2 linked regions of the Homo sapiens genome follow. The protein of the gene in region 1 purifies or fractionates together with the protein of each later gene. This does not show direct contact. Each region holds a gene or a part of one and is shown in the gene's direction. Other genes may lie near its edges.

What was found. The genes of interacting proteins can lie anywhere in the genome.
Region 2: the proteins of FOXJ3 (region 1) and SERPINB7 purify together in Homo sapiens (affinity purification with mass spectrometry; one large-scale study listed by BioGRID and IntAct). This does not show direct contact.

Annotation. Positions count from the first base shown.
Region 1 is NC_000001.11:42,178,199-42,181,964, reverse strand, and holds part of FOXJ3 (forkhead box protein J3), read left to right. Parts: coding exon 1-48; intron 49-2,139; coding exon 2,140-2,255; 3' UTR 2,256-3,766.
Region 2 is NC_000018.10:63,802,525-63,806,017, forward strand, and holds the end of SERPINB7 (serpin B7), read left to right. Parts: intron 1-1,712; coding exon 1,713-2,111; 3' UTR 2,112-2,846; downstream 2,847-3,493. UniProt on the Homo sapiens protein: Might function as an inhibitor of Lys-specific proteases. Might influence the maturation of megakaryocytes via its action as a serpin.

The DNA of each region.
Region 1 (3,766 bases):
ATCCTCATATCCCACAGGCACTCAGCACTCCAGGAACAACGATGGCAGGTAAGAGAGAGAGAGAGAGTGAGTGTGTGTGTGTGTGTGTGTGTGTGTGTGAGCACTCCAGGAACAACGATGGCAGGTGAGAGAGAGAGTGTGTGTGTGTGTGTCAGTTATTACCCAGAGTTTAATATTGAGAAGCATGTGTGTGTGTCAGTTGTTACCCAGAGTTTAATATTGAGAAGCGTTAGCTTTCCCGATGGTGAATGAGGCTGCCTCAAGGAGTGAACTCCCTGTTAAGAGGGGCTAGGGGACAATGTCTGGACAGCCACTTGGCACTTGTGCTAGCAAAGGGATTCAAGCATCAGTTGGAGTTTGGACTGTAGGACCTGAAGTCCTTATTAGCCCAAGATGCAATGATTCTACTTATTCTAGTTATTTATTGTCTTGCCTCTCTAAGAAGTCCTGGGGTCATAGTTGAGGGTGTTTGACAGGACTTTAGCAGGTTTTAGGAACCTACTTTATTAGCTCCTGTAGATTCTGCTTCATTCATTCCTATGGAGTTCCCCCAGCTATAGTTTCCAGGGAAGTACCTTGTAGAGAAGGTAAATTTTAGGTGTTAAGTGGTTCATACACTTTTCCCGCTGGGTTCTTGAATGCAGGATTCATTTAGCCAGCGGAATACGGCACATTGTTAGAGCTGGAAAGTATCTTAAAGATCACTTAGGATAATGGAGGCTCTGAAGGAGAAATGCCTTGCCCAGGCCACCCAGTTTAGTGAGTGGCCAGATCAAGACTCAAGCCCCAGTGTCTGGATTCAGAGTCCGTTGTTTTTCTCACATACCACACAATCCTTTACTTAGGCTATTTGAGGAAAAGACATAAAGGTAATGGGGTTGGGGGTGGATTTAAAACCTTGAAGAACTGTGTGGCAGACAGCAGTGAGGAAGGAGTTGGGATCAAGTGATATGTCCTTTGCTGAAGGGGGAAGGAATGTTAACCTGTTGTGAGTGCTTACTACTAATTTGTAAGTGGCACCATAAGGTGGTAAGGCTCTGGAGCCAGATTGCTTGTGTTTGAATCTTCATGCTTTGCCACTTAATGGCTGTGTGATATTAGGCAAGCTACCTAACCCTCCTACCTCAGCTTCCCTGTTTGTAAAAGGGGCTAATAAAACTACCTGTGTCCTCGAGTTGTTAGGATTGAATGAGAATCATGTAAATTAGTGCCTGACCCACATTAAGGAACTTATAAGTTTTTTTTAAATGGAGGCATTTTACCTATATTGTGATATACTGAAAACCTTAGCATTAAATAATTGTACAAGAAAATATTTCAGGGCATATGAGAAAAATGAGTAGCAGACTACTTGAAATTTTGTAATCAGAGTACTAAAAAAAAATCCAGTAAAACTTCCACAACAGTTAAAAGGATATGTATAATTTGTAATAAAAGAAAGAATTCTACAAGTAAATATCAACCTCTACTTTTAAAAAGCAGCTGGTTTAGAAGGGGGGGGTCTGTCAAGATACGGTGGAGACACAGACCCAATGAATCAAAATTGGGGAGCATAAACAGCACATGGCCAAACTGGTACAAGAAGAGCATGGGAAGGTGGGCATTCTGTACTCAGCTGTGGTTCCTTCTGGTTTCCTGTGTTCCCTTGTTGATGTCCTCTGTGTTCACTTGACATTACTTGGTGGCACAGAAATTAGCTTGCTGGGGAAAATTCAGTATGACGTCATTGGTGCACTGCCATCATTATCCTGTTTACCATTCTCATGGGAGCCAATTCATGTTACTGAAACAACGTATTGGAGCAAAACAGACTGTAAGAGCAGTGGCTACATTGGCACTTTTCTCGTGTCTTCCTTACTGCAGCCTGGTATAATGGAAGGAGTGTGGATCAAGTGAACTGACCTCAGATCCTATCTTTGTCCCCTACTGGTTGTGTGACTTTGGGTAATTTACTCATCCTCTTAAACCGTATCCCCTTACCTATAAAATAAGGATCATAAGAGCCACTTTTTGAAGGCTTATGGTTGAATTAGTGAGATAATGTGTGCCTGGCATATAGGAAGTACACAGTAGGGGTTAGTTTATTTCTTACTTTCTTCTCTACCCAAGTCGCTGCTATTATTGCCTCTTTCCTTCCAGGCCATCACAGAGCCATGAACCAGCAGCACATGATGCCTTCCCAAGCCTTCCAGATGCGGCGTTCCCTGCCTCCAGATGACATCCAGGATGACTTTGATTGGGATTCAATTGTGTAGGGCTTGTTTCTGCAAGACACCAGACCCTAACGTTACCTTTCTGTGCAGTGAAGGGAAAGGTTTAAGAGAATCCAGTTGAGAAAACAAACTTGCTAATCACTTTACCAATGTTATCAAAATTACTTTTGAAGACAATCAGAAGGATTTTAGCTGGATAACTTACTGCTTTTATCTGACCCAAGCAAGTACTACATGTTTGTCTCCCTGCCAGCTGCCCTATGTAGCTCCTAACTGTTGTGTGATTTGGACGGCTTTTTGCATATTTGTGTCAGTTTGATGTTAACCACAAGTGCCAGACTGATTTTTCAGACGGAGCCTATTTTGCTGCAAGCAGTTTATATAAAGATACATATGTGTAAATATATGTACAAAAATTACTGAAAGGCTTCAGTTTTTTCTAATTGGATTATTATGTCTTGAAAGTTATTGTCAGTTTTTATTCCTTGTTAGGCTATTTTCTGCAGGATGCTTTTAACTGATGTAGGAAACTGAAAGGAAATAGATTTTTTCCAAAACCCAGTTCCCCTTATTTAATCTTTTTTAGAAATGTGGGTAATGAATTCTATCTAATAAGTCAAGGAAACCAGAATTTGACACACTCCAACAATCCGAAGGGGCATGTTGCTCCTGAGCAGCATGAAGAACTGACCAAATTGGTTTTGATGCTTGGGGGATCATAGAGTATTTATGTCTGCTTTTCTAAATCTGCATTATAATAGCTCTAAAATTTGTTGATTGGTAAGAAATTGGGCATTGCTTGGCTCTTTAAACACATCAGTGCTTCCACATTCACCTATGTATTTATTATTCAAAAGTGTCATTTTAATATTTATTGCTACCTTCTGTGAATGCTTAGCTCCTGTCGGGTTCATTAAGGAGAAATGTGTCTGAAAGCACAGAACTATTATTATTTTTTTCTTTTTTTGAGATGGAGTCTTGCCCTGTTGCCCAGGCTGGAGTGCAGTGGCACGATCTCGGCTCACTGCAACCTCCGCCTCCCGGGTTCAAGCAATTCTCCTGCCTCAGCCTCCCGAGTAGCTGGGAGTGCAGGTGCACACCGCCATGCCTGGCTGATTTTTTGTATTTTAGTAGAGATGGGGTTTCACCATGTTGCCTGGGCTGGTTGCAAACTCTTGAGCTCAGGCAGTCTGCCTGCCTCAGCCTCCTAGAGTGCTGGGATTACAGACATGAGCCACTGCGCCTGGCCCAGCGTTACTTTTCTTGATAAGAATTTACAGATAAGACACTCAGAGAGACATTGTGTCATTCTCTATCATCACTCCTTTTACCATGTGAATAGATTTCTCTGTCTTGGCATTCTTGCTGATTCAGACTTATTAGTTAAATCGGATTTTTCTGGAATTTGAATCAGATTTCATTTGGGCAACAACAGCAGGGCAGGGTTTCTAAAGCAGGTTTCCCCACTCATCTAGGTTGTCTTGAAAGGAGGATAGAGCCACTTACAGTTTTATTTGCTTCAGTGTTTAATGTAGATATTATGTGGCCTGCTG
Region 2 (3,493 bases), on another chromosome or scaffold:
GGAAGGGAGGCTGACAGAATTTGGTCAATTTTTCTGATAGATACATATGTATAGATATGCATATTTGTGTGTATGTATGTGCACACACATATATGTATGTCAGCTATACTGAAAAGTTACATACACTTAAAAGTATTTGTTTTGTTTTGACTTGGAAAATAATGAATATTTGCTGTGGAATAACAGGACAGGGGAATGAATATAAAGAAACAGACATGCCTACCATCCAAGGGGCATTAGTATGATTTAAAAACATGACTTTAAAGCTTTGGAATGACACTTTCTGCATAGACAAAGATTACGGAATTTTAGCAACAACTTTCTTTCATTACGTTTTCATCTTAATTATTTTGACATGAGAAGCAAGAGAAATGTCATAAAATTGGTACTATTAAATCTAAAGTATGACCATATAAAATATTGGTCCTCATATTAAACCTATAATTCACGTGATAATCTTCATAACAGTCAGATTTTAGCATACAGCAATTAGTTTAACTTGAAATAATCTGCAACAGAAAAAGTAGCCCAGATAAAGCAAGCTAACAATATAGTTTTATTCTTGCACTTACTGTCTGAATTTTCCTTTTCAGTAATAGATTTACCTAATAATGTTTGAATCTGACTATTATAAACCTACATACTATACAATCTTAAATACCTGCATAATCTTTCATAACCAGATAACGATGAGGAAGTTGGATCTCAGTGCACTAAATGAAAAAAAAAATTCCAACAGGGTAAAAATATATTACAGATTAACCACAAAACTGGATAACTAAAACAAAAAATTCAAATTAGACTAAATTTGATTGTATAAATTTAGGTCCTTGATAAGAATACAAGTTAAATTTAATATCAGTAAAAAGTTGTTTAGGATTGAAGTTGAGCCTGAATTTAGGAAGAAATGTCCTTATGTAAGATTTCTAAACAATGTTTATGAAAAATCTTCTTATTCTAAATTGAGAATTTATGATCAATTCTCAGTATTCAAGAGCTGGTGAATTGGCTTTGTGAATTGTTTGTGGGCAGCGATGCTGTTGGAGAGAGAGATAAGGACTCTTCTAGCTGTGTAACTAAGGTTGCTTGCTTTGCATTCAGGCATATCCAGCTACATCCTCCTGCACTTCAGTTGCCTCATCTGTTGAGAACAAGAAATTGATTTGAATTCAAGCTTCCCAGACAGTATGGGTAACTGCACTGGGAGATATTGGTCACCCAAACCTTTGAGGCTGGAGCTCTGGCCTCCTTGCCTCAGGCCACGTGGGGTTCCTTTGGTTTACTCCAGTAAGCTGTGCAAACATTATTTTATCTGTCTTTCATGATGAGGAGATGGCTAGGAAATATTGATTTAAATGACCACTGGGCTCCTTTCTCCCTCTAATGGTCTCAAATTCCCAGGTTCCTTCACCTGTCTATTGCTCCACGTTGGCTGTATCTGCTCATGGGTGAGCAGAGAGTGGAATTGCCCTAAGGTGCAAATAAGTCATGCCTTCTCATAGTAGAGCAAATTAAACATGGGATTTGTTTAAAAGTACTTGAGCTATTCATTTTATTCATGTTCTGTTTCAAGACTGCCCAAGACACATTCATGTACTTGAACACAAATATCCAGGAAGCGATAATTATAGAAAACTATGTATCTCTGTAGCTATTGTTTTATCTATCACTTGACCATATGATTCTAAATTATCTCTGAATTATTTTTACAGATTGAAAACAAACTGACCTTTCAGAATCTAATGGAATGGACCAATCCAAGGCGAATGACCTCTAAGTATGTTGAGGTATTTTTTCCTCAGTTCAAGATAGAGAAGAATTATGAAATGAAACAATATTTGAGAGCCCTAGGGCTGAAAGATATCTTTGATGAATCCAAAGCAGATCTCTCTGGGATTGCTTCGGGGGGTCGTCTGTATATATCAAGGATGATGCACAAATCTTACATAGAGGTCACTGAGGAGGGCACCGAGGCTACTGCTGCCACAGGAAGTAATATTGTAGAAAAGCAACTCCCTCAGTCCACGCTGTTTAGAGCTGACCACCCATTCCTATTTGTTATCAGGAAGGATGACATCATCTTATTCAGTGGCAAAGTTTCTTGCCCTTGAAAATCCAATTGGTTTCTGTTATAGCAGTCCCCACAACATCAAAGAACCACCACAAGTCAATAGATTTGAGTTTAATTGGAAAAATGTGGTGTTTCCTTTGAGTTTATTTCTTCCTAACATTGGTCAGCAGATGACACTGGTGACTTGACCCTTCCTAGACACCTGGTTGATTGTCCTGATCCCTGCTCTTAGCATTCTACCACCATGTGTCTCACCCATTTCTAATTTCATTGTCTTTCTTCCCACGCTCATTTCTATCATTCTCCCCCATGACCCGTCTGGAAATTATGGAGAGTGCTCAACTGGTAAGGAGAACGTAGAAGTAGCCCTAGGGATCCTTTTTGAAACTCTACAGTTATCGCAGATATTCTAGCTTCATTGTAAGCAATCTAGGAAATAAGCCCTGCTGCTTTCTAGAAATAAGTGTGAAGGATAAATTTTCTTTGTTGACCTATGAAGATTTTAGAGTTTACCTTCATATGTTTGATTTTAAATCAGTGTATAATCTAGATGGTAAAAAATGTGAAATTGGGATTAGGGACCAACCAAAATATTTCATTAATGCTTTCAATTGACAAATTTTGGTCTTTCTTTGATAAGACAATATGTACATAGTTTTTTCAAATATTAAAGATCTTTTAACTGTTGGCAGTTGTTATCTACAGAATCATATCTCATATGCTGTGTAGTTTATAAGTTTTTTCTCTATTTATCAGAATAAAGAAATACAACATACCTGTACAGTGTGATTGTTTTCCTCTGACCAATTGTAGGACAACTAGGGCTTTCTTTGTTTTCTAGGCAAAGCAAGCAAGCAAGCAAGCAAGCAAGAATTCTTTTATAATATGTTTGATTTGATTCAATGTGGCTCGTTTATTACACATAAAATTGCTTATACAGATATATAGACTGATGAACTAATTTTAAGCAGTAGTATTTAAATTCATGAGGGAAATGATTTGTGTATATGAATATTTATAATAAGCCATCTGTAATTTTATAAACAGAAGAAAAATAAATTGAGAATCAGTAGATCATGCTGAACTTACTTATGAGTTTGTAAACAATGAGTCCATTGAATTATATTTTCATCAAAAAACACTTTTACCTGAATAGGAACTGTATAAATCAATGATAGCCTACTGCATGTCTCTGCAGTGCTTAATACCAGACCTGGCAGATACCTAATTTTCAACAAATATTGTGGAATCTAAAAATATGATATAAATGAGTAAATATGACATGACTTGAAATATGTAGAAAATCTCTTGACCAAAATAATTTAACCACTAACCTGTGGCACCCGAACTATTACAGCTTTCAGGACATTTATGGAGAGTGAATTTCAGTGGCATGTTTTGAGAGAGGAATTGATTTTTCTG